Homo sapiens: one gene and its partners. The protein of the gene in region 3 interacts with the protein of the main gene of each other region in a pairwise test. Each region holds a gene or a part of one and is shown on either strand. Other genes may lie near its edges.

Region 1 (4,045 bases), on a different chromosome or scaffold from region 3:
CCATGGTGGATGAAAATGATGTCTGGTTTAGTACTGGAATTGCACTTGGGGTTGACAAGGTGCTCACACCATGAGAATGGAGGCAGGAATTGAGCTGACTGAGGGAAGATGCACCTTGATCTCACCCTCACTCCAAGGCACATAGCAGGATCACTCCCTAGCTTCTCTGAGCACACCTAGTTGGTTTCATGTATGTTACACATGCTTCCACTCCACAGTACCTAATTTCTCTCTGTCCCCTGAGATCTGAAGGCTACCTTGGGAAGAGGCATCAGCCATCTTGCTTGAGAACCACCAAGCCAAAAGCAAAAGCTTTTATCTATGATCTCTTGCTGTTTCATCAGGGGAAAGCACAAAGCTATTTCTGAAATTAGGAAAAAAAAAAAAAAGGTGGAAGGAGCAGCCAGATGTTCCACAGGACCCCACCAAGAAGGTCATTTCCAAACCCATCCTGGAAGGGCCCAGGATCCAAAGGTCATCAGTCCTGCTTATCTGACCAACTGGCAGTGTCTTCTGGCTGCTGGCCGGAGACAGCTCTTGCCCTTTCCAAAGTCACTGTCCACTGCCTTGCAATTGCCAGCTTGTCTGGTCCAGCTTTGGGTTTGGTGAGACTTTTGCAACATCCCTGGTTGTTTCCCTGGCAATGTGACTATCCAGCCCTAACCCAAAGCAAGGGAGTGCCCCTTTCCTGGGTGAAGTTTACAAGAAGGCTGCTTAAATGCCTGCTTCGGGGAAATCTCTGCCTCTCTCTCTCTCTGTCTCTCTCTCTGTCTCTCTCTCTGTCTCTCTCTCTCTCTCTCTCTCTCTCTCTCTCTCAGTGTATTTCTCTACTTTCTTTTACATTTCCTTTTTTTCTATCCAAAAACAATGTGCTTGTTGAGGCACTGGTAACCCTGATTAACCAGAACCTCCCATTCCCAGTATCGCTGTTCCTACGCCCATTTCACCCTCATTACCTTCTGCTTCCAAGGAATATGACAGATCACCAGGATGCTGCTCGTCGTGAGGATTTATCTCAAAAACCAACATCCAAAATGGGAGGGAGATGTGGCTTGAGGTCAAGCGCCATGCATCCCAAGCCTTTGACCTTCCCGCTATGGAAGTGCACTGGATGACAGAAACTGAATACATTGCTCCCTTTCCCTAGGGCAAAGTTCGACCTCTGTTAAGTGGAGGGATTTGTGAGATAAAAATTCAAAATGTTGGCCTGAGGCCTGAGAGTGTCACCAAAGACAGAGGGAGCTTCACTGAGACTCAGAGGGAAAAGGAAAAGAGCCTCAAACATTTTTAGGAGGTTGTCCATCATGAAAGTAAAAACGAAAAGCAAGATTTGATCTCCCTTCAGTTAATTAGGCAAGGCTAAGTAACTCAAAGCCCCCTATTAGTAACATTCTGGTTCACTGAGGTTTGATCATATTCCTATCTGCATTCCTTCCCTTCTTTGAAGGACAGCTGATCTTTCAGAAGCAGAATAAAATTAAGATGTTAGAACAAAGGTCTCAGTCTCAGAGAACCGCATCACTTCATTTGCTCAGACCCATCCTCTTTTGCAAAAGGGTCTGCTTGGAGAGGCCAAAATTCAGGGTGCTCTCAAAGGCAAAGAAAGCACATTGTTTTCCTTCTCCAGTCCAACTTTCATCTTTTCTTCTGCTGTTTTCTTTTCCCCTCTTCTTTTTCACAAATGTTCAAAATGGTCTCATGCGCATGTGTCTTGCCCCACTTTCCCCTTTAGCTGAACAGAAAATTTTGTCTCAGTAAAACGAAGTCAAAAAACAGGATTCCTCCAAACATGCCTCCTCCCGCACTGGCCAGCCGAGTCCAGCTGAGAAACTTATGCTAGATTCAATGTCATTGAGCAATGCTTTATTGAAGTCTCGTTCTTCTCACTTCTGCACCAGTGAGCCAATGATACTGACAGAAATGTCATCTCTCTTCTATCTGTGGTTGCTGTTTTTGGAGTAAAAGTTTCTGTGTGTGTTTTTTTAGTTCTTTTGATGGCTGTTGTTTTGCATTGTAAATACCATGATGGGGGACCCCCATCAGAACATGGCTTATTTAATAATTTATTTCGTATTTATTGAGTAATATTGGGAAAAGAGAAGGACCACCTCTTTCCCTGAATTGCTATTGAGAATTGGTCCATCTCCCAGCTCCAGGTGCTGCTGTCTGCAGCAAGGGCATTACTGCCCAGGTAAGGAGTGCTAGAATCACCAAGCAAATTGAAATTGGCAGAAATGGAGGCTTCAGTCACACAAATTAGACTCAAATGGAACTAAAACACTGGTTATCTCCAGGAAAACCTCATTTAGATGGAAATTAATGGAAGAATAAAATGCCTACACATGAACCAACTTCTATTAAAAAGTCACAACTCCTTGAAAAAAAAAATAAAGAAAAATTGTAAACTCTTTTTTTTTTCTGGCCAAGGAAAGCTATGCCTCATCTTCTAACGAGCCAAGCCAAAAAGACTGCAATGGTATTCCTATGTGTTTCTTTGGCCTGTGTATCAGTCTGAATGAAATGGAATGGGTCTCTAGCCTCAGTCTTGTCATCTGTAAAATGGGGCTTGTCCTATATATTATCTGCAAGACGTGGGAAATGGGGGCTCAAGCCCTGATGCTATGGACTCCATACTGTTGGATATATTGTCTCTTGTGTCTTCTGCTGACTGCAGATTAAAGGGTGTCAACCAAGGAAGGAAACAAAAAAGTAGGGCCTGGACTTCATTTGCAGAATGAGGTCATAGTCGTTGAGTCCCACAGTCATATATGGGAGACCTCAAGTTGCTGTCACCTTGATAACTCTTGTATCCTGGGTTAAAGCCCTCTGTATTTAGTTTGAACTTCTCTCTAAGCCCCGTGGTCCAAAGTCATCACGGGAGAGACCAAGATGGGCTTACCTTGCCCTGCTCTGGATTTAACCATTGTTCATTGTCAGGCTATATTTTTGTACAATCATTCAAATAACCCAGTGACATAGGTCATATTGCCACTTTTCAGAGGAGAAAACTGAGGCTCAGGAGGGGGAGTTGACATGCCCAAGCTCCCTTGAGCTCAGATCAGCTTGACTCAATGTCCAACATTCCCTTGGTAGCTTTTTCTCCGGGGTCCTGTGCTATAAGAACTTCTCTCTGCACTGTATTTTTTTTTCTCCCAATTCTTAGCTATTTCCTCAAGCAATGATTGGCCAAGGACCTAGCATAATCCACCACATTGGCCAAGGGGACGTGGTGCACCCCAAGGCCATTTCTCTGCATTGGAGGCTGCGAATCTCCTCTGGAAAATTCCCAACCCGAGGACCCACCATGAGCCCAGCTCAGCCTGACCAGACAGCCTCTGCCTGGAGCATTCACATCAGATGGAAAGAAGCTGCTGTGTCCTCCAGCATCCTGGGACCCTGTCCTCTGCCCAGTGACACAGCAGCCATGGCTAGCTTGATTTCTGGTCTCCAAAGCTAAGCATAACCTTCCCGGGGTTTCTGGTTTTTCAGCCTGTACGAAACATGTCTCTGTTCTAATTAAAGTTCCCATGGTATGGTGTTCTCATATATGGCTCAGTGTTCTCTGTTTATATGGGGTACTCAGAATTAAAAAATGGGGAGGGAAACAAGGAGCTAGAGAAGACTTAAGTAGCACCTGCTGCGTGTCATACATGTTCACACTACTCAGCTCACATCTTTAATCTTCCAAACAAACCTGTATGTATTTTGGGTTTTTGGTTATATATACAGCATATATACCAAATATATACATGTTATATATATATATATATATATGTGTGTGTGTGTGTGTGTGTGTGTGTGTTAGTAGCAGCTATGGAGTGCCTTAGGCAACCTTTTTGGAAGCATTTTATATGTGTTATCTTAGTATTCAGCAACAACCAACCCTATGAAGTAGGTATTAGGAACTTCTTCTTACAAATAAGGAAACTGAGTCTTAGAAAAGTAAAGTCACCCAGGCACAGTGGCTCACGCCTGTAATCCCAGCACTTTGGGAGGCTGAGGTGGGCAGATTACCTGAGGTCAGGAGTTTGAGACCAGCCTGGCC
Region 2 (7,034 bases), on a different chromosome or scaffold from region 3:
CTATCTACAAACAACTCAGGATTTTTTTAAAAAAAAAATTATTATTATTATTTTGAGACAGGGTCTTGCTCTGTCACCCAGGCTGGAGTGTGATGGCACCATCACAGCTCACTGCAACCTCGAACTACCTAGCTCAAGCAATCCTCCCACCTCAGCTTCCCAAGTAGCTGGAGGCCACAGGCACAAGCCACCACACCCAGCTACATATATCTATATAACTATACGTATTTGTAGAGACAAGGTCTTACTATGTTGCCCAGGCTGGTCTCAAATTCCTAGGCTTAATCAATCCTCCTGCCTCAGCCTCCCAAAGTGCTGGGATTATAGGCATGAACCACCGTACCTGGCCCAACTCAGGAATTTTGTACTTATACTAGCTTTGTACTTATACTAGCTTGCATAATACTAGCTTTATTAATACTAATAAAATAGCTTAAAAGGTTTTTTTTAAAAAACTCATTTTAAGAAATATTCTTTCCATCCTAAACTGTAACATGGTCTTCAAAACAAACTAATTTCTTTGCTTTTTCTGCCAAAATATCAATTATCTAACCTTATGCCCCATGTCTTGTGACAACTCAACACTAATTCTCCTGAATTTTTTAAGCTGAATACTTTTCCATCAAGTTGTAATCACATACCAGCTGTTTCCCTTGCTGTAGTATAGAAAGCAAATGTACAATGCAGGGTGCCATCTACTGAAACATGAATGCACAGACTAGTAAAAGAACAAGCAAGACATATAATAGAGAAAAAAGTAACAAGCATTAGAACTGATGCACTTCACAGCTCCACAGGAATTCTACTTGCAATAAATGAAATTGTTTAATTTGTTTCATTTAGTAGCAACTATAACTGAGACTATGATGTGAAATAAAGTACAATGAACAAGAACATAAGTGAGGTTATAATTAAAACTTATTGTCAGCCATGCCTAGTTCTTCCCACTACTAAAATATACCACAGCTTGACAACTGCCTTCTTTGCGTGCTGATTTAAGTCTATAACCTATATGTGTACTTAAAGCAAAAGGGTATTAATAACTTTTTTAAAAAAATTAAATATCTCAAGGCAAAGAGAAATCAGACAAATGTTTGCAAGTTACATAGACATTTACATCAATCTGTATTTTCATAAGCTTCTGTTTTTTGTAAAAATTATATAGTTTTCATTTGCTTTCAGACATTAAACTTTTTTTTAACTAAAAGAATCATTCTGTGATAGAATTTGAATCTAAAAGGGAGGGCAGGAGTGGTTTGGGGGATATTAGTCTGTGAGCTTTAGAAACATTAAATAAAATATTTGATATCATACACATGCAGAGACTATTTAAAAAATATACTAGGCTACATGTTCATTTCCAGATTAGCAACCAAAACCAAACTAAACCCTACAGATCTGTGTACTATATAACTGAAGATGTAGTAGAAGTATTCACTGAAAGATAGTTCACTTATTTTGATAAATAGAAATGTAAGATGCAATTATTTACTTATGAAAGATCTTGAATTCTTATAAAGATGAATATGATATACACAAACTATTAAATAAAACAGCATTTGTTTCACACTATGAAATTTAATATTCTTATTAATCCTGAGTAAACAAGCTTTGAATAAGGAACTAAGAAAGTGACACCACGACAGATATGGATAAGGCTTAACATGTATTTTTAAATCTGACATAAATTCTAAGGTACTTTCCAATAAAGTTTTACCATATTCAGCTTTTCTAATTTCATGTCATTTATTATGGGACTTGTTTTTTTGAAAGCCTTAACTTTGGCTGTCAGTAGTTTAAAAAGGATGTTTGATAACGTAAAAGAGATGCATATCTGTGCATGTATGGCAAAATGTGTGTTCACACATAATAATATATTTGTTAATGCAAAACAGTTACCTGCTGTGGTCCTCGGATTGCTTTTCCCGGGGAATCGAGTGAGGGAAAAGGTGCATCAGATGGGTCCAGAAGTGGGAAGCTATTTACATATAATGCATTATGGTCTCCAGGTGGCAAACACGCAGCTCTATCCAGAGTTGTCCTGATACAAGTGTTTACGAGATTTGAGGGCTTTGTTTTGTCAGTTGTTTTAAGGTTTTGTATAGCTGAAGCTATGGGGTCAATTCCCTGAATTTCAAATAAAGTTTCTTCTGTTTTAACAAAGTTCCCTGGGTTGTCTCTGAACTCCATATTAAATTTCTCTTGGCACACTGCCTCAGACGTGGCAGGACTAAGGATGCCGGGTCTCTCTGGAGTGCTATGTAAGAAAGTTGAGTCATTGTCCATAGGTGGAAACTTGACATTGAATTTAGAAAGTGATTCAAAAGAGGTGTCTTCCTCATCTCTGCACAGTCCTCTTGGTGTGACAGATGTGATGGATGGTGCACCTCTATTTATATCATCTTTAGCCTGAGGCTTAAACAGCGCTTCTTGTTTATCTGTTTTATCCGTACACTGTATAGGCACAGAGCACTGTGTTTCTGGAGGGAGAAGAACACAAAAGAGAAACAGCCGCATTCAAATCATTAAAAAAATCTGTTCAATCAGCTTTGGAGAGATTATTATTATTTTTTCTATTGGTTTTTATAGCAAATGAAGACAACTGGGATTTTAAAATTTGCTACCATCTTACACAGAATATTAGCAGTCTCCAGCGGGTGAACTGAAACATAGCTTATTAGTCGCAATTTAACTACTTTGTCTTTTCCTAAGTCTTCTGCCGTAAGCTTTGCATCTTGTTCACAGTTACACTGCTCCACACTTGAAAAACATTTGCTTGTAGTGTATACATTTAAACATTTTGTCAGTAACGGAAGCTATAACTGTGAGTTTGCTTAGACAAATAAGTTGTTAAAAGGGAAAATCTTACTAGGTATATCTAAAATTAGGTCATTTATTATTAATGTCACTGTCTAACTAAGTATATCACTAATCAGTTTAGCCACTGTCTGCTCTCAATAATCCATGTGAGGGACTGGTGGTTGCAGGAGTTGGGAAAAAGAAGACAGTGAAGGCAAAGGAAGGATGAAATATTGTGATGCATGTTAAGAAAACTGTGGATGAATAGATTATTTTATCATCTTATATCTTTTTTTAAAAAAGACCTCTGTAAAAAACAGGTAAATATCTGGTAGACAAAAGGGCCTCTGTAGCTCATTTATCTAGAACCACTTATCCAACAAATTCAGCTTTGTAGGACACAGTCAAAAGCTAGAAAGAAAACAGAGCTTCTGAGGAGCCAGAATTAGAGCCACAAGGTTCATAGATAGATGAATTTTGTTCCTATTGTCATTTTAGATTTATTCTAACAAACTTGGTGGTATTTCCACAGCTCATAGCTGGTTTGAAACAGCAAATTAAAAGGGAGTATGAGTTGCTAAAGGCAGACATAGATATCAACAAGAGCTAAAAGCATAGGAAGAGATAAGAAAGACAAAGAAGCTGATATAAGAACTTAGAAAACACTACAGTCTAGTATAGGGCCAATGAGTGCTCAATACAAAAAAACAATCATCAAAGTACTCTCCATGTTGATGATTCTGAGACACTAGAAAAAGCCAAATTAAGCTCCACAATGTCCCTTAAAGAAGGCACTGAAGTTGGTAATGTATGTATTTTAAGGATTGTCATCAGCACTGTTGAACATTCACAAATGGAGACATTACCAATGATGCAAATCTAGGTAGACAGGGTATACAGAACACAAGGTATACAAAGTATCTGTACAGGTTAGTAGGCACTTAACAAATGTCAGTTCCTTTATATTCCTTTGGTCTTGGCAGTCTCATGACACCTCTCTGTCTTTTGCCACAGCACATTCCAATATATTTTTTTCTGTTTGGGTATGTGTAGTAAAATGCAACCAACTTCTTTGGTTCATTTTGTTATATACCTACTGCCTCTCTTTATACCTCTCTTCATACCATCCTTTCTTATTGGATTATTATAACAGCCTTTAAACTGCTTCCTTGCCTCTGAATTTGTCTCATATCCAATCTGTTCTCTTCACTGCAACTTCCCCTCCATCCCTTCATTCTCAGAGTAGTTTTTCTAAAATACTAATCTGACCAAGTTACCTTCCTAATAAAATCTTTTGATGGCTCTACAAGCCCCTCAGATCTCAGAAAAGGCTTATTAGACTGTTCATGACTGGCCCCTGGTCATCTCTCCATGCTCATCTTTCACTCCATACTCTGGCTATAATGAACTTTGTATAGTTCTCCAAAATAGCTACACTCTCTTGTCTTTGCACCTTTGCACCTGCTGTGCAGACTGCCTGAAGTGTCCCCTCCCATTACTCTTTGCCCAACTCTTATTTGTCCTTCATATCTTGGCTTGGACATAAGTTTCTCTGGATGACTCTCCCATGACTCTTGGATGCCCTGAGAACTGAAACACACTGTTATATAGTTATGTGTCACTTAACGACGGAACATTTTGAGAAATGCAGTCTTAGGCAATTTTGTCATTGTGCAAACATCATAGAGTGTACTTACAGAAAGCTAGACAGTATAGTCTACTACACACCTACATTATATGGTATAGCCTATTGTTCTTAGGCTACAAACCTATACAACATGTTACTGTACTGAATACTGCAGGTAACACAATGGTATGTGTGTATTTAAACACTGAAAAGGTACAGTAAAAATATGGCATAAAAGATAAAAAATGGGTATGCCTGTATAGAGCACTTACCGTGAATGGAATTTGCAGGACCGGAGGTTGCTCTGGGTGAGTCAGTGAGTTAATGGTGAGTGAATGTGAAGGCCTAGGATATTACTGTACATCACTGTAGACTTTATGAACACTATACACTTAGGTTACACTAAATTTACAAAAAAAACAAAATGTGCTACAATGTAACAACAGCTACCTACAATGTCACTAGGGTGATATTAACTTTTTTTTTTTTGAGACCGAGCTTCGCTCTTGTTGCCCAGGCTGGATAGAGTGCAATGGCATGATCTTGGCTCACCGCAACCTCTGCCTCCCAGGTTCAAGTGATTCTCCTGCCTCAGCCTCCCGAGTAGCTGGGATTACGGGCATGCGTCACCACGCCCGGCTAATTTTGTATTTTTAGTAGAGACGGGGTTTCTCCATGTTGGTCAGGGTGGTCTCGAACTCCCAACCTCAGGTGATCTGCCCAGCTCAGCCTCCCAAAGTGCTGGTATTACAGGCATGAGCCACTGTGCCTGGGCTGATATGAACTTTTAAGTACCATTATAATCTTATGGGGCCATCATTGTATATGCAATCTGTTGTTGACTGAAAATGTCATTTGGCACATGACTGTATTTCCAAGTATAACTCTGTTTCTTCCCACTAAAGTAGGTTTTTTGAGGTCTTAAACTGTTTTGTTTCCTTCTAACTCCAGACCCTTGCCCAGTGTCTGGCACATAGTATGCCCCTAACAAATGAATTCTGAATGAATCTGTAATCTCTCCCCTACAAAGCCTACTATAATAATCAACATTTACCAGATACTCTATGACTAGGAGTGCTATAGTAATTGTCACCAAGCTTAATTGTTTATCTGGATTTCTTTAGCCTCTGAGGTTCTTAAAGTCCATTAACTCTCGAGTAGTCATTTTCCCTGGCAGTAGACTTGAAAGTGGTAGGAAAGTCTAGGAAACAGTACTGTCTTTGTAGATGACATTTGCTACTTGCAAATAACAAATCAGGAAAACCAACTGTTGAGGTAATCAGATTCTGTAACACCCGAAGAGGAGAGACTTATCAAATGATCTTCACAAGGAGAACAAGGTGAATGCTGGAGAATCTGCTGCTGCTGCTGCTAATGGAAATGACTATTAACATTAATAGCACTTCCACATGGCATGTACTATTATAATAATTGTATGTACATTAATTCATATAATACTCAAAGTAATCCTGAGGCAGGCACTATTATTATCCCCACTTTACATGTGAAGAAACTGGTTGGAGAGGTTAATTCAAAGGCCACACAACTATTATAGTAAGTGGTAGATCTGCCACTGGAACCCAGGCAACCTAACTGTAGATTTGTGCTCTGAACCATTAGGCTAAATTGAACATGTTGGTTTCTATATATAGAGAGAAGTCCCCAAATTGACAGAAATGTGCTTTGAATTATTTTTCTAGCAGTTGATCTATCCCCGCTGTGAACAAAACGAGGAGAAATCAAACAGCTCTAAAAAAACAGATATTTTCTTTCAGCAAAGCTAGCTGGCATAAAACTCAGCCACATTAAAATAATCTGAGTTAATCTGCTCAAGCAGTGAGAGTTAATATCTATTAAAAAAATTTAAACCTTACATTCCTAATGCTACTAGAAATCTAAGCTGAGACAACTTAAAACTCAAATGAGATGCATGAAAGCACTTGTCATCCTGACACCATATTGAGAAACATGATCAGGTGAGCAAATAGCTTTTCTATTTTGTCTATTTTAAGACTACTTAGCTTTGCAAGGAAAAAGTAAAATGGGAAATATTTTTAGATTTCCCAGTTTTAAATACAGGCTATCCATTTAGTTACTTCTCAGTATAATCACGTTGTATATTGACAAAAGAAAAAGACCTCATGGTTGTTTATTACCCTTCTCATGGATGTTTGTTACCCTTAATCCTATATTCTTCCTTCCCAATCTCTACTGAAATTGGACACTCCTTTATGAACCAAACAGTACTTTATTTGAAGCTATGGATAAACATACATTTTATCTTTATCATTTCTTAAGTCTACTGCCATATGTAGATGAGTAGAAAAAACAAAGTAATAATAAATAGGAAATGTAGAATTCTACTAACTCAGTATTTTCAAATGAATCATATCTGGTTATTTAAAAGTAAAAATCAAATTTTAATACAAAATAACATAGGGACAATACACGTACTCTTCCCAGATATATTGTGCAAATCATATTCAAAATAGTTCTTCTATATTTTTATACAGTGTAGCATACATACTTGGAAACCCTGAATAGGCATCTTTTCAAAAAATATTTTTTCCTTTCTCCTTTTGATATACCACTGTCAGAGTATAATATT
Region 3 (7,034 bases):
GTTGGATAGAATTTAAATTGTCTACATAAATATTTGTTTTAGGACCCTTAGATTTTATCTGAATACACAGATTAGGCTTTAAAAACAGATATATATGTCATTTTTGGCTTAAGGAGTTTGGCTAAGTTAGCTTTTCAACTGGCACTGTATGGCAGCATTTTTTGGTATGGTTAGCATGGCACATGGCGAAACATAAAGCATTTTACTGTACAGGTAAGGAATGTGCCATGTTGTTTTACCTATCTCTCTTTCTCTCTCACTCCCATGCACACATCCTGTGTGTATTCAGAGACCTTCAGAAACATTCATATTCATTTTCATGAGTCAGCAAAAGCCCTACGCTTGATTCCAACAGAATATTTCCTTTACATACTTTCTTCTCTTAATTTTTACAAAATTTGTATGGTAGGTGTAAAAGAAAATCATAGTAACTGTACCATATTATTAACCCCTAAATCAAACTTTTTTTGTCTTGTGTATCTTGATTTTTCTGTGTGCTTTATAGTGAAGCAGCCGACACGAGTCGTTGTTCATAAAACAGCTTTTGAAAGTTGAGAGCACACCCCTGGAGAACCGACTGTGCTTGCTTACGTTTGGTTCATGACTTAAAAATCGAGTACAGGTGATGAAATCTTGGCAGTGTTAACAAAAAAGTAGTGTGTATTGTGCTATTTTTTTTTACTCTAGAAACTTAACCATTTGTAGAGAAAAAGGAAACAAATTTTCACACATTGAAGTTCATTCTGACATAAAATTAATGATAAATAATCATAGAAATCAAGCTTTGTATTTTAGCGAACATAAGTACTTTCAACAAACTCAGGTGGTGTATCAGGGAGACATTTTCTGGGTGTTTTTGTGTGTTTTCTGTCTTAGAAAAGAATGTGTTCTAATGCAAGGATGTTTCTCTGCAGGAGTTATTCCTGATGAAGCTAAAGCTTTGTCTCTGTTGGCACCAGCTAATGCAGTGGCAGGTCTTCTGCCTGGTGGTGGACTCCTGCCTACTCCTAACCCACTTACCCAGGTACTAGTTCTATTGAATTCTTAAAGGGTGGGGAAAAAAACAGAATTGTGCATAAAGCTAAACATATTTGAACTTTGTAAGTACTCATAAGATTCTAGTTCAGATAGCATTATCACATGTCTATATCAAAATCACAAATAGTATAGAAGATCTCTTAGACTTTTGTATTTTAAGAACATTCTGAAAAATCATAAAATATCTGTTCTGTCACTTTTACCATTGGCTCTCAAAATAACCCATGAGTAGTTTTGGAACAGTCTCCTGAGGCATGAACACTTCTCTGAACACACTGTTAAAAATATATTCATTTGGACCAGGAAAGAAAACTGAAGTTAAAATTTCACAAGTGAGCCCTTCATTTTTTTTTCCTTCCCCTTTATCTTTTCCTGTTATTTGGGGGGTTTTGAATTACATAGGTGGCTTGAAAACAAAGGCAATTCTTGATGGAGATGTTTGATATGGGAATGTGAAAGAAAATTGGTTGCAATAGTGTTTCTAACACTGACAGTGCTGTACGAAGCTTATTTTAGAACTAAAAGGCACTTTAAATACTGTGTATTCTAATTACTGAGATTGTAACTGGTCAGTAGTTTCAAAGATTGTAGTGAATGAGCCTCAACTGGAAATTTATAAAAGCATTCTTTCTAGTGTATCATTTTGCCTGTCTAAATAATTGACTAATTGACTCTTAACTGTGAAGTGCACTATAGAATGAAAGATTAGGAGTTCCTAAGCTTTTTAGGTGTGACTTTTATCACTTAACTCCTAGGTTATTTCTTTTAACCTATAAAATGAGGATCTGAGTAATTTTCTTTATTCTTTGTTCTGTTTTGTTTTGTTTTTTTTTGTTTGTTTTTTGTTTTGTTTGTTTTTGTTTTTTTGAGATGGACAGAGTCTCGCCCTGTCACCCAGGCCGGAGTGCAATAGCACAGTCTCGGCTCACCGCAGTCTCCACCTCCCTGGTTCAAGCGATTCTGCCCCAGCCTCCCGAATAGCTAGGACTACAGGCATGCCACCATGCCTGACTAATTTTTGTATTTTTAGTAGGGATGGGGTTTCACCATGTTGGCCAGGCTGGTCTTGAACTCTTGGCCTCAAGTGATCTGCCCACCTTGGCCTCCCAAAGTGCTGGGATTACAGGCGTGAGCCACCGCGCCCAGTCCAGATCTGGGTAATTTTCTAAATTCCTTTAATGTATAAAGCTATGCAATAGCTATGTTGGACAGTAAGTTAAAATAGTATTAACACAGCATTTTGCCTGTTACGAATAAACAGTTAAATTATAGAAAGTTTGATAGTTTGTGTTTACTAAATAAATTGAAACAAGGAGAACTTGTAGCACAGGTGGAGAAAGTGAGGCTGTTTCAAAAGCTACAGATGGTTTTAAAGTAGCCTCACTTTCATGGTTTGTGTCTATTACATTATGGATTAATCAGAATTGGTGTCAAGCAGGTGGCAGAACCCTGCAGTGATTTGAACAGGGAACATTTAAGGAATTACTAACTAGTTATAGGAGATTACTAGGGGAACTCTAATGAATACAGGAATCACAAGTATAAGAAACAACCACTACCTCTGAGGCTGAAGCAGAAGGAACACCCATTTAGTTCAGGGGACTCCTCTTTCCCCATCTATGCTGAAACTTAGATTTGTTTTTGGAAGGGTGACTAGTAAATAAGTTCTCTTGGGTGCCCTGGGGAGCTGCATAAGGAGTTGGTATTAAAACTTACTGAGAGGCGAGGGCTACTGGGTGTTTGACATGGTGCTGCAGGAATAATCAGAAAGGGGACACAGCAACCAGGAAGAGCCCCTTTCTTAGTCAGTGTCCTTCCAGCACTCTTTCCAAATGAAGTCTTATATCATGGCAACTGTCAAAGGAGAAATGCTTTGTAAAGGTCCTGCCTCCGGTAGCACAAAACAGCAGGGCAAAGAATAGTAGATTTGGATCCTGAGAAGCAATAAATAATTAAAATCAGCACAAGAATATGTTGAAATATTTTGTCTTTTTTTCTTAATCTAGGATTTAGGGGGGAAATGTGTTGTAATGGGTGGAACATGGGTGTCATATAGAGCAAGACTCCTATTTCTGTTAATAGATTGTTATTGGACCACAGCCATTTGTTTAGGTATCGTCTCTGGCTGCTTTCAAGCTATGATGGCAGTAGTTATATGGTTTGTGTACAACTGAGGAGTTGTACGGAGACCATGTAGCCTGAAAACTCAAGTTGTTATCTGACCCTTTACATTAAAAAAGTATTAACCCCTGGTATAAGGAACTGAAATGAAGTTTTAAATAAATAAAATTTGCCATTTCACAGATTGGCGCTGTTCCACTGGCTGCTTTGGGGGCTCCTACTCTTGATCCTGCCCTTGCTGCACTTGGGCTTCCTGGAGCAAACTTGAACTCTCAGGTATACCTTAGTAACTTCAAATTTTTCACCCATTTTTACAGAAGATCTGTTTCATTAACTGTTGGTTTGCATTTCAAGAGCAGAAGCTAATGGCTATGTTGTAGTAATTTTTTTTCTTGTTTAAACTTGTCAGAGCTTTAAACAGTCACTGAATGACTAACTCCTTTATCCATTAATGGATTTCTTTTATATAGTTCAAAATAGAAAATAGATTCACAAGAAGCCAGTACATTATCAGTGTGTCATAGAGTCAGAGTAAATAGTCATGAAAAGATAAGAATGTGGTTTATAATTTTTCTATCATGGAAATTTTTCTTTTATTTTAATTTAGCTAACCTTTTTTTCTGAAGTTCTTTGTAGAGGTCTTTTGCATTATATTGGCTAAGGTGTTTTGAGTTTTACATGTTTCTTTATGTCAAAAAGTCTTAAAGGAGACATAATTCTATAATACCTAGACTGTTCAGCCTCATAATCTTTAGATAACTTGCTAAAGCTGCTCTATCCAATACTGTAGCTACTGATGTCACCGGTTTTTGTTTTGTTTTGTTTTGTTTTTTGTTTTTGTTTTTTCTTTTTTAATGTGGCTACTAAAAAATTTATGTTTCATGGCATGTAGTCTGCATGGATTTCTGTTGTTCAGTTTTCTGCCTAGAAAATATCGGTCATTTATTGTTTTATGTATTCTCATTATTCTTATGTTTTATTTTTACAGTCTCTTGCTGCAGATCAGTTGCTGAAGCTTATGAGTACTGTTGATCCCAAGTAAGCGTTTTTTCTTTGTTTTCATTGGTGATGTGGTATCTGAATGTCTACAGAATTAGAGTTTTTTTGATAGCTTATAAGAAAGTTATCAAGTTATCTTTTCTCAAGACAAGCAATATGTATTGTTACCTAGAAACAAGGAGAGAAATACAGAAGTAAGTAAGGTCCTCTAAACTATTTTGTTTCAGTGTCATTTGAGTCTTGAATAGTAATTGTAAATGACTTATACCTGGATGATAGCAAAAGAGCTAATAAGGGACAACTTCGTTTGAAGATCAGAGGCTGAGTCCTGAGGATAGTAGGAGTTAGAGGCAAAGCTGAGGGAATCACTATCCCAGAGCAAAGTAGTATTACATATTATATAATTAATAGCCAACATTTTATTTTAGGTGCTTTTGATAAGTGCTCTTCATGCTGTCACAGAAATTGTTTCCGACTTGATGATGTGACAGATTCATCAGTTTTTTTCACTGGTTATTTGTTGGCATAATAAATTTGAACTTTATACCTTTTCCCCTTAACTTGGTGAAAGTCACTATCAGTAAGTGAGAGAGCATGAAAAGGACAGAATCGTTGGACTTCAGTAGTTAGTGGACTTTTTTCTTAGAAATTATCTAAAAATAAAACCAAGCATGTACCCATCACCCAGCTTATAAAATAAAATAATACCAATACAGTTGAAGCTTCCTATATACCCATTATTTATTACATTTCCTGTTCTGCCCACAAATAACTACTAAATTTGTTGTCTATAATTTTTTTTTCTTTCTTCTTTCTTTTTCTTTTTTTTTTTTTTTTTGAGACGAGTCTCACTCTGTTGCCCAACCTGGAGTGCAGTGGCGCAAACTCAGCTCACTGCAACCTCCGCCTCCCAGATTCAAGCAATTCTTTTGCCTTAGCCTCCCAAGTAGCTGGGACTATGGGCACAAGCCACCACATCCGGCTAATTTTTTGTACTTTTAGTAGAGACGGGGTTTCACCGTGTTAGCCAGGATGGCCTCAATCTCCTGACCTCATGATCCACCCGCCAAGGCTTCCCAAAGTGCTGGGCTTACAGGCATGAGCCACCATGCCCGGCCTACAATTTTTTTTTTACATGTGTAAACCTGTAAGGGGCATCTTTAGCCTTTCCACTCAAGACTTCATGTGTAATTTTGGTAGGCCTTTGGCCTCTGCCTCAGTTCCTCCCCACCTACAAAGTAAAAGGTAATGCTCTTCCCCAAAAAATTACTATGTCATAAATTTTTTTTTTTTTTTTTTTTTTTTTTTTTGAGACGAAATCTCACTCTGTCGCCCAGGCTGGAGTGCAGTGGCGCGATGTCTGCCTCCCGGGTTCAAGCAATTCTGCTGTCTCAGCCTCCCGAATAGCTGGGACTACAGGCGCCTGCCACCATGCCTGGCTAGTTTTTTGTATTTTGAGTAGAGATGGGATTTCACCGTGTTAGCCAGTATGATCTCGATCTCCTGACCTCGTGATCCACCTGCCTTGGCCTCCCAAGGGGCTGGGATTACAGGCGTGAGCCACCACACCGGCCCAAAAATTTTTAATTTATATGAATAAAAGTTCTTAGCATCAGCATATTTTCTTGTACTGGCATTTCTAAAAATGTGTTTGTTTATGGAAAGTTAATGGATGTTCAGCAAAATAGGTATTTTTCTAATTCCAGATGACTCTTAGTCATTAAAACAAATACTTGTAAATATTCAAAACAGTGCTATGCTATATGTTGTTTACCAAAGTTATCATGGAGTCCTCCCCTCCCTTTTTTTGAAGGAATATTTTGCTAAAATAATGTTATATACTTAAGTATTTATTTGAAATGCTCGTGTGCATTTTAAAATATTTCAGATCCCATTTCTTGGTTCTGTTTCAGGTTGAATCATGTAGCTGCTGGTCTCGTTTCACCAAGTCTGAAATCGGATACCTCTAGTAAAGAAATAGAGGAAGCTATGAAAAGAGTACGAGAAGCACAGTCCCTAATTTCTGCTGCTATAGAACCAGGTAAACAATGTTTATGCAATTTTGTTGTGTGATTCTTAGCAAAAATGATTTTGACATAAATGTGGAATTGTGTTGAGTGACACCCTAGTCGTTTAAAATGTTGTAAACTCTGATAAAAGATTGTATAGTGGAGTGCCACTCAGACGTATTTGGAGACAATTCTGGTGGTCACAGGAGTACCAACTGCATCTAGAGGGCAAAGGACCAACATGTTGCTAGATATCCTGCAACAAACAGCACAGCCTTCCACAGCAGTGGTTAATCTAGTCCAAAATGTCAGTAGGATTATCTAATACTTGAAACGATATTTTGTTTTTCTTATTATTTATGTTTTTCTAAGTTGGGATAGCCTAATTTTAATTTTTTTCATTGATCAAGAGAACCTAGTGAAAATGCTTCTGTTTAAAATGATATTTCTTTAAAGAAAATTAGTTGTCTTCTTTGCAGATTGTCTTTTTGAGAGTAAATGAATAGATATCATATTATCTGCCCATATATATTTAGATCTATGGCCCTGGATTTTCTTTCTTATAAATATCTTGTTCATTAATAAATGGGAATGTTTTTTAATGTGCCTATTGTTAGGAAAATAATTTTAAAGTATAATAGTGGATAAACTGATACCAAATGCTTTATATGTATTATGTTATTTAACCAGGAAAATGTCAAATAATTAGCCACAGTTACATGGCAAGCAGTAGGAACTTTTAGATAGCACAGCCGGGTGTATGTAAAGTTTATGACACACCGTGTTCTAACTGCTGTTTATATTGAAAATATATGATTAAAGTGACTGAATGTAGTTTCTTTATGAACTGATGTTTTTACCAATATT
Region 4 (7,690 bases), about 27 Mb from region 3:
CACCTGGGTTCCAATCCCAGCTCTGCCTTTGAAGCACTTGTGGCCACCGTCAAGTCCCTTTGCTCTCGGACCCTGGGTTTCTCATCCTTTAATGAGGTGGGTTCAGAAGCTCTCCCATCTTCACAGCAACCCTGGCACTGGCTTCTCAATGGGAGGGAAGCAGCAGAGAAACTGAAGTGTTAGACACTATGTGTCCCACCACCCCATTACAGAGACATATGACAATGTTCAGCAGGTCATCTTTAATGCAGAGGAGGAGATGGGATGTCACTCGCTGTCTGGAGGCACGTGGGTGGTGTGCGGGCCCTCACTGGCCAGCCTCTGGGTGGCCCCGCCTATCCCAGTATGAACGTAGCCAACTCAAGCCCTCTACTGTGTCTCCTGCAGGGAGAGGGAGGCCTCGGCACCTCAGCCCACAAGGAGAAAACAGCCCCTGTCCGGGTCCCTCCAGAGCTCCCTTCCCCAGGGCCACGCCTCACCTCGAGGCTGATACTCACAGCCCACGAAGCCTTTGTAGCCTTCATCTTCCAGCAGTTGAAACAGATAGGGGAAATTCAGCTCTCCGGGGCTGCTGGGCTCCCCTCGGCCTGGGACCTGTGCCACCTGCACATGCCCTGGGGACAGATGTGGACAAATGTGGGGTCCAGGCTCCTGCCAGGGCCTGAAGGACAGATGTGGGGATTGAAAGGGTGGGAGGGCAAAGGAAGGTCCTCTCACCAACAATGGGCAGGAACTCCCGGATGTTTCCTGTCAGGTTCCCATCCATGATCTGCCAGTGGAATATGTCCTAGGGAAGAGGATACTACATTCCGAGACCCCGCAGGCCCCGCCCTCCTTCCGATCTGCGAAGTACCCCCTTCCACTTACCATTTGTAATTGGAGGTTGGGTCTTCCTACCTTCTGTAAGATGGCTGCCGCTGTAAGAGAAGCCAGGGAGGGGACCGTGAGCCTCAAGAGCACAGGAATCAAAAGGGACAGAAGGAGAGACAGGGCTGGGGTCGTACCCTGCTGGGGCGTGTCCAGGAAGTACTGGGGGTCAGTGATGCGGGTGTTGATGGGCTCCAGCAGTCCCACGAGGTCCTCCTAGCAGCATGTCGGGTGCTGTGAATAGAGCTCCTTCCCAAGTTTGTCCCCCATCAGTCAGTCACTGGTCAAGGCCCTCACCTGTTCCTCTGACCTAGGCTGGCAGCCTCACGTGCTGTCCCCACTGTGCACCCCCTTCTCCGCACACCCACAGAGACATGTAAGTACGTGTGTGTTTCCACCTTTCTCACCTGAGCCAAAACCCCAGCTGCATGCCTCAGGTTCTCCAGAAAAACGGCCTCCATCTCAGCCTTGACTGCTATTCGATCAGCTCCCTGGGGTACTCGGCCAGCCATCAGGTGGATCCTGTGGGGAAGATGGACTGGAGGCCTTGCCTCCCTTGGCTCTCTCTGCACCTCTTCCAGGATTCCCTGACTGTGCCAGCCCTCGTCCGTCTCCCCAGGTCTCCAGTCCATGGCACCTGGGTCACGATGCCCAGGTATCCCAGCACTTTCAGAGACACTTCAGTGATGGCTGAGGGGCAAGCCCTTTCCCAGACATCTCAGTGTCCACCCACCGCCTCCTGCCTCCAGTACTTTCCAAAACCTTTCCTTCCCTCGGTCCTTCTCCGCAACCTGTAACCTGCTAAATTCTCACCTTTAAAAATTGTCCTGACCTTTGCTTGCCCTTCTCAGGTATTCCATGCTGCTGTCTCTACTTCCTCTCCTCGCATCTACTTAGCCTTTTCCCATCTGTTTTCTGCCCCCACCATTGACCAGTAGTGATCCCCTCTTGCCAGTTCCTTCTGAGCCTGTTTGGCCTCTGCAGGATTTGACATTTGAATCAGCCCCACTTTGAGCCGTCCACCTCCTCCCATCATCCCCTGATCTTAGCCACATCCAGCTCCAAGCAGACATTCCAGGCCTCCCCATCCCAACAGGCTACATACATGTCCAGCCTCAGGAACGCTGCCAAATACACCAGGCCTCCTCTTGCCACAGCACCCTTGCAAGGAACACTCAACTTCCTGCCCATCAAGCAATGCCCACTCCTTGAAGACAGTCCAAGCATCACTACCTGTAAGCAGCTTTCTCTGATCCAGACAGGGTTAGGTGCCTACCCTGCTCCCACAGCTTCCTGGAATAGGCCTGTCCTCAAATGCATCACTGTATATATTTACTCTCCTATCTGCCTAGGCAGACTGAGCTCCCAGCATGGGATCCCAGCATGGGGTGAGCATGAAAGAGTGGCAAACAGAGTGGCATAAGACAGATAAAATACAAAAGGCAATTTACAAAGGACCAGGACCGCAGAGGCAGAGATAAACCAGTGGGCTCAGACTTCTGAGCGTCTCAGATCTGGCGTCCTCGACTCCCTGAACCTGCATCAGGGTCATGGGTCACAGGGGTGGGGGTGGGGTGGAGCGGGGTACCTGGGACAGCCCAGGGCTTTGGCATACCGCACGGCCTGCTCCAGTCCCTCTCGGAAGGCCGCCTGTCTCCCGGGGACGGCCCCCAGCCCCATTTCCCCCTTCTCTTGGTCTCCTGCAGAGAGAACGGGCCTCAGCCCCCGGCTCGGACACTCCCCTGCCCGCGCCCCGGCACCCCCCAGCCCTCCCAGCCCTCCCGGCCCGCGACGCACCCGGGGGCGTGTTGATCAGTACAAGCCGCAGCCCCGCTTCTCGCGCGGCGCGCGCCAGCGCCTCAGGCGTCTCCGCGTACGGCCAGGCCACCTCGACGGCCTCGAAGCCCGAGCTGCCCGCGGCCCGCACCCGCGCGGGGAGGCCGGAGAGCTCGGGGAATAGCCAGGACAGATTGGCGGAGAAGCGCAGCGGCGCCATGCCTGGGGAGGCCGGGCCGGGCGGAGTCCGCGGGATCCAAAGGCGGCGGGCGGCGGGCGGCGGGCGGCGGGCGGGGGCGGGGCTCTCCTTGCTGGCCCTGCGAACGAACGAGCACTGTTCGTGGTTAGAAAAGCGAAGTGCTGTAAAAACCCGGGCCTTCACGAAAAGCGCCTACGGTTAGCGAGAGAGGGATCACGGGGAGAGGCGAAGGGGCGGAGCGAGGGCGGCCGGAAAAGGAGCAGGACCCGCGCCTGGAGAAGGTAGGGAGGCCGAGCTCCAGGGCCTGAGAGCCGGACGCGAAGCAAGAGAGAGCTGGCTGCCCGAGGGCCCGGTTGCAATGATGGGACGCGCACTTTAATACTGAGTCTTTCCTCTGATTATAAAAATGCTATCTGTTCGTTAAGCAACATTTGAAAGCTGTATGACCAAATAAAGAAGCACTTTTATACCGCCAGTTATCACACCACTAGCCTGTTGGCTTTCCCGTCCAAATTTTAAAATATGCAATTTTTTTCTTTGGAAATTCTGATCATTCGGTATATGCTGTTTTATAGCTCTTTTTCATGGAATATTATTTTGTGAGCATTTCCTCGTGTTTTCCAATAGCCTTCAAAGTCAGTGCCTTCGCTGCTCATTGTCGCACACCTAAGCAGCAAGTCATTATTGTACTTTGTGGTTGGATATCGTGTGTGTGCACGCGCGCTGCAAGCGCACTTTCAGGCACTTCTTAGTCCCTATCTCTGACTCTTTTCCGAGTCTTTTTCTAGAGATGTCCATCACAGTGTTTGCCCGTTCACGCCGCTAGTCTTTTGCAAGGGAAACCGCCCCATTGGAGCAGCTATGGGTGAGCTGTCCCTTTTTAGCCTTAGCCTCAGCTGATTGGACCAGGGAGGTCATCTGATCCCAGGGCAGCCAATCCATAGACTGGCCAAAAACCTCTTACTTGCGTCGTTTGGAAAGGTAATTTAACCAATCAAGAGTTCAAACAAGGAAATGCTGAGAGTCAACAGGTGGTGTTGCCAGAAGGTGACTGGGCTGTAGAAACGAAATAAGACAGTCCTATGGTAAAGAAAAGCTAGAGCGGAAAGGAGGGGAACCAAGTCCTGTGAATAGAGGTAGCACCCTGAGAAACCCATGTCATCCCAAGGGTGCCCAAACCCATAGCTGCCCCCAGGTCTGTGCACTTAAGGCTGGGATGCTTAGACTTTCCTGGGTTTCTGTCTCTGTATAGCCTCTTAATGTTTCTTGAGATAATTTGAATGATTTTACTTTCATCTACAATAACCCAACTGATTGGGCAGGTTCTTATGGGTAGAATTACATGGTCAAAAATAGGAACATATTTAAGTTGTTGATATCTTAAATTTCCTTTGAAAAATATAAATTTATATCCCAACAATTCATGAGTAAACGTCATCTTGATCTATCGTCTGTGCTAACTTTGACAGAGAAGCTTAAAGTGCAACATTAGGAACACCCAGCTCCCACTGATTGTTCTGTCAACACTCAACTCCATCTCAAATGAGGCCAGCTCAGACACCAGGGATCCAGCCTGATCCCGTGGTGAACCCAAATTCTTGGCAGGTTCTGTTTCTTCAGCTCTGCCTCCAAGAACAGACTGCTGCCAGCTGACACTGATCACCTGATTTCATGCTCTTTTGCAGCTGGTTTTACACTAGGACCTTTGCCTTGTCTTGGAACGTGTTTCTCGTCCAATCAAGACCTCACTAAGCTTAACATTGTAATCAGTCCCAACTTTAGTGTGTTTGCAATCCAAAATTGACAACAAAGAGTAACATCTAGAGGAAGTAATTCCTTTATTACCACCTCACTGTTGATCTCCGAGTATGCAAATTCTATTTATGATGTTGACAGCTGCTGAGCTCTGCGTCAGAAACAAAATGTGTCCAACTCCCGATTGTCCACCCCTTTTTTCCTTGGACATGCCTTAGGGCAGTAAAGATTATACATAAACTAGACATAGGTGACTCACTTTCCCCTTAATTCCCTTACAACACCTTCCACCTTCACATAATATGCTCAAATAAATATATAAGGAGTGCAATGTCCATGAAAATTATTTGCTTTATTCACCTTTGACTATGTCTTATCCCACCTTGCAACACAGGCATGACACTAAGTTATCACAAGTTTTGATTCTTTGCATTTGCCTTTTTTTTTTGCTTTATTGTGCACACTTCACAGGTACGTATTTGACTTTTAACCAAATAATTTGCACAGGTGTGATTTTAAAGTAACAACAACTTGTAAATAGTTGCATGGATAATGGCAAAAACTTTAGTACAGAGTTCAGAGTCTCATTTGATCATTGGATAACATTTGGCAATGCAGTAAAACATATTACAACTCATGTGAAATGCAAATCAAAACCTCAATGAAATTCTATTTTATGCCTTCCACATTGGCAAAAATAAAAAACACATTATCAAATATTGGATAGGATTTGGAACAACTGCCAACAGGAGTGTAAATCACTATAACCTCCTTGGAAAACAATTTGGCATTGTCTCTTAAAGCTAATATGCCTATGATCTGACAGTTCCTTTCCCAGGTGTATCCCCTGAAGAAAGTTTTGCACAAGTGTACCAGGAAAGAAGTAAAGTGATGTTCACAGCAGAACTATTTATGTAGCAAAAAGATGGGACTAACCCAAATGTCCATCCATCCATACATAGATGAGTTGTGTAATAGTATAGTCATACCATGTTGTACAAGAGAAAGCTGGTGGCTCAAATGATAACACTGAGTTTGTTCCTGTGTTAGGACAATATATGAAGAGCTTAGTGAAGTTTGATTGGAACTGAAAAACATCAGTATGAAAGCATCAAGTGGATAAATCTCAGAAACATAATCTCTAGAGGAACAAGCAAATCACAGAGAAATACCTACAGTGTGATTCCATTGATATAAAGTCAAAGGCAGGGAAAACCAACAGTATCTTGTGTAGGAATATGGACATCTCTGATAAAACAATGAAGAACAAGTGAATAATTATCACAAAATTCAGCATAATGGTGACCACCTCTAGAGGAGGACAGAAGAGGGTAGCATTGGAGCCTTCTCTTACGTTGGATAGCACATTCATGTATGTTAATTTTACTACTCTTCTTTAGAGCTAACATATATTTTATAAATATCATTTTTTATCTGTCTTATATTTAATAAAAACACATTTTTAAAACCTGTATGCATTACTGCCATCTGTTAGCACATTTGATATTAACATCCTCATTGTGGTATCACTATAATCTCAAGATTTTTCTACAGGTTCAGCTTGTTTGTGTTGTTTGTCTGGTTTGAATTCTAATGATCACTTTTTAGACTCAACTTGTCACTGCTCAGCACAGTGGTCTTTTATTGTATTATCTGTCCAGAACCTGTGGCAGGTAGCGTGTAAAATGGTCCCCAATGGGTCAGAGGGGGTGGCTCACACCTGTAATCCCAGCACTTTGGGAGGCTGAGGCAGGAGGATAACTTGAGCCCAGGAGTTTCAGACCAGCCTTAGCAACCTGGTGAAACCCCATCTCGACAAAAATATAAAAATTGGCCAGGCGTTGTGGCATGTGCGTAGCCCCAGCTACTCCAGAGGCTGAGGTGGGAAGATCACTTGAGTCTGGGGGAGGTCAAGGCTGCAGTGAGCTGTGATTGCACCACTGCACTCCAGCCTGGGTGACAGAGCAAAACCCTGTCACAAGAAACAATAAATAAAATAAAATAAAATAAAATAATAAAATAACCGTTAGCAAGATTAACCAAGAAGAGCGAAAATCCAAATAACCTCACTAAGAAACGAAACAGGAAATATTACAACTGACACCACAGAAATACAAAAGATCATTCAAGGCAACTATGAACATCTTTATGCACATAAACTAGAAAACCTAGAAGAAGTGGATAAATTCCTGGAAAAATACAACCCTCCTAGCTTAAATCAGGAAGAATTAGATACCCTGAAGAGACCAATAACAAGCAGCAAGATTGAAATGGTAATTTAAAAATTATCAACAAAATAAAGTCCAGGACCAGACGGATTCACAGCAGAATTCTACCGGACATTCAAAGAATTGGTGCCAATCCTTTTGACACTATTCCACAAGACAGAGAAAGAAGGAACCCTCCCTAATTCATTCTATGAAGGCAGCATCACCCTAATACCAAAACCAGGAAAGGACACAACTAAAAAAGAATACAGACCAATATCCTTGATGAACATAGATGCAAAATCCTTAACAAAATACTAGCTAACCGAATCCAACAACATATCAAAAAAATAATCCACCACAATCAAGTGGGTTTCATTCCAGGGATGCAGGGATGGTTTAACACATGTAAGTCAATAAATGTGATACACCACCTAAACAAGAATTAAAAACAAAAATCACATGATCATCTCAATAGATGCAGAAAAAGCATTCAACAAAATCCAGCATCCCTTTATGATTAAAACCCTCAGCAAAATCGGCATACAAGGGACATACTTTCATGTAATAAAGGCCATCAATGACAAACCCACAGCCAACATAATACTGAATGGGGAAAAGTTGAAAGCATTCCCTCTGAGAACGGAAACGAGACAAGGCTGCCCACTCTCACCACTCCTCTTCAACATGGTACTGGAAGTCCGAGCCAGAGCAGTCAGACAAGAGAAAGAAATAAAGGGCATCCACATCGGTAAAGAGGAAGTCAGACTGTCCCTGTTTGCTAACAATATGATTGTTTATCTTGAAAACCCTAAGGACTCCTCCAGAAAGCTCCTAGAACTGATTATTCAGCAAAGTTTCTGGATACAAGATTCATGTACACAAA

The links.
Region 1: the proteins of SRSF11 (region 3) and SRRM4 interact in binary tests that used the Homo sapiens proteins (3 or more experiments, as listed by UniProt).
Region 2: the proteins of SRSF11 (region 3) and TANK interact in binary tests that used the Homo sapiens proteins (3 or more experiments, as listed by UniProt).
Region 4: the proteins of SRSF11 (region 3) and HYI interact in binary tests that used the Homo sapiens proteins (3 or more experiments, as listed by UniProt).

Annotation. Positions count from the first base shown.
Region 1 is NC_000012.12:119,159,508-119,163,552, forward strand, and holds the end of SRRM4 (serine/arginine repetitive matrix protein 4), read left to right. Parts: 3' UTR 1-3,544; downstream 3,545-4,045. UniProt on the Homo sapiens protein: Splicing factor specifically required for neural cell differentiation.
Region 2 is NC_000002.12:161,226,417-161,233,450, reverse strand, and holds part of TANK (TRAF family member-associated NF-kappa-B activator), read right to left. Parts: intron 2,481-7,034; coding exon 1,900-2,480; intron 1-1,899.
Region 3 is NC_000001.11:70,231,354-70,238,387, forward strand, and holds part of SRSF11 (serine/arginine-rich splicing factor 11), read left to right. Parts: exon of another isoform or gene 1-757; coding exon of another isoform or gene 758-914; coding exon 915-1,024; intron 1,025-3,342; coding exon 3,343-3,435; intron 3,436-4,147; coding exon 4,148-4,197; intron 4,198-6,071; coding exon 6,072-6,199; intron 6,200-7,034. UniProt on the Homo sapiens protein: May function in pre-mRNA splicing.
Region 4 is NC_000001.11:43,450,931-43,458,620, forward strand, and holds HYI (putative hydroxypyruvate isomerase), read right to left. Parts: upstream 3,002-7,690; 5' UTR 2,864-3,001; coding exon 2,665-2,863; exon of another isoform or gene 2,568-2,664; coding exon 2,456-2,567; exon of another isoform or gene 2,075-2,455; coding exon of another isoform or gene 1,973-2,074; exon of another isoform or gene 1,390-1,972; coding exon 1,275-1,389; exon of another isoform or gene 1,084-1,274; coding exon 1,005-1,083; exon of another isoform or gene 918-1,004; coding exon 868-917; exon of another isoform or gene 788-867; coding exon 718-787; exon of another isoform or gene 615-717; coding exon 480-614; exon of another isoform or gene 382-479; coding exon 308-381; 3' UTR 142-307; coding exon of another isoform or gene 89-141; 3' UTR 59-88; downstream 1-58. UniProt on the Homo sapiens protein: Catalyzes the reversible isomerization between hydroxypyruvate and 2-hydroxy-3-oxopropanoate (also termed tartronate semialdehyde).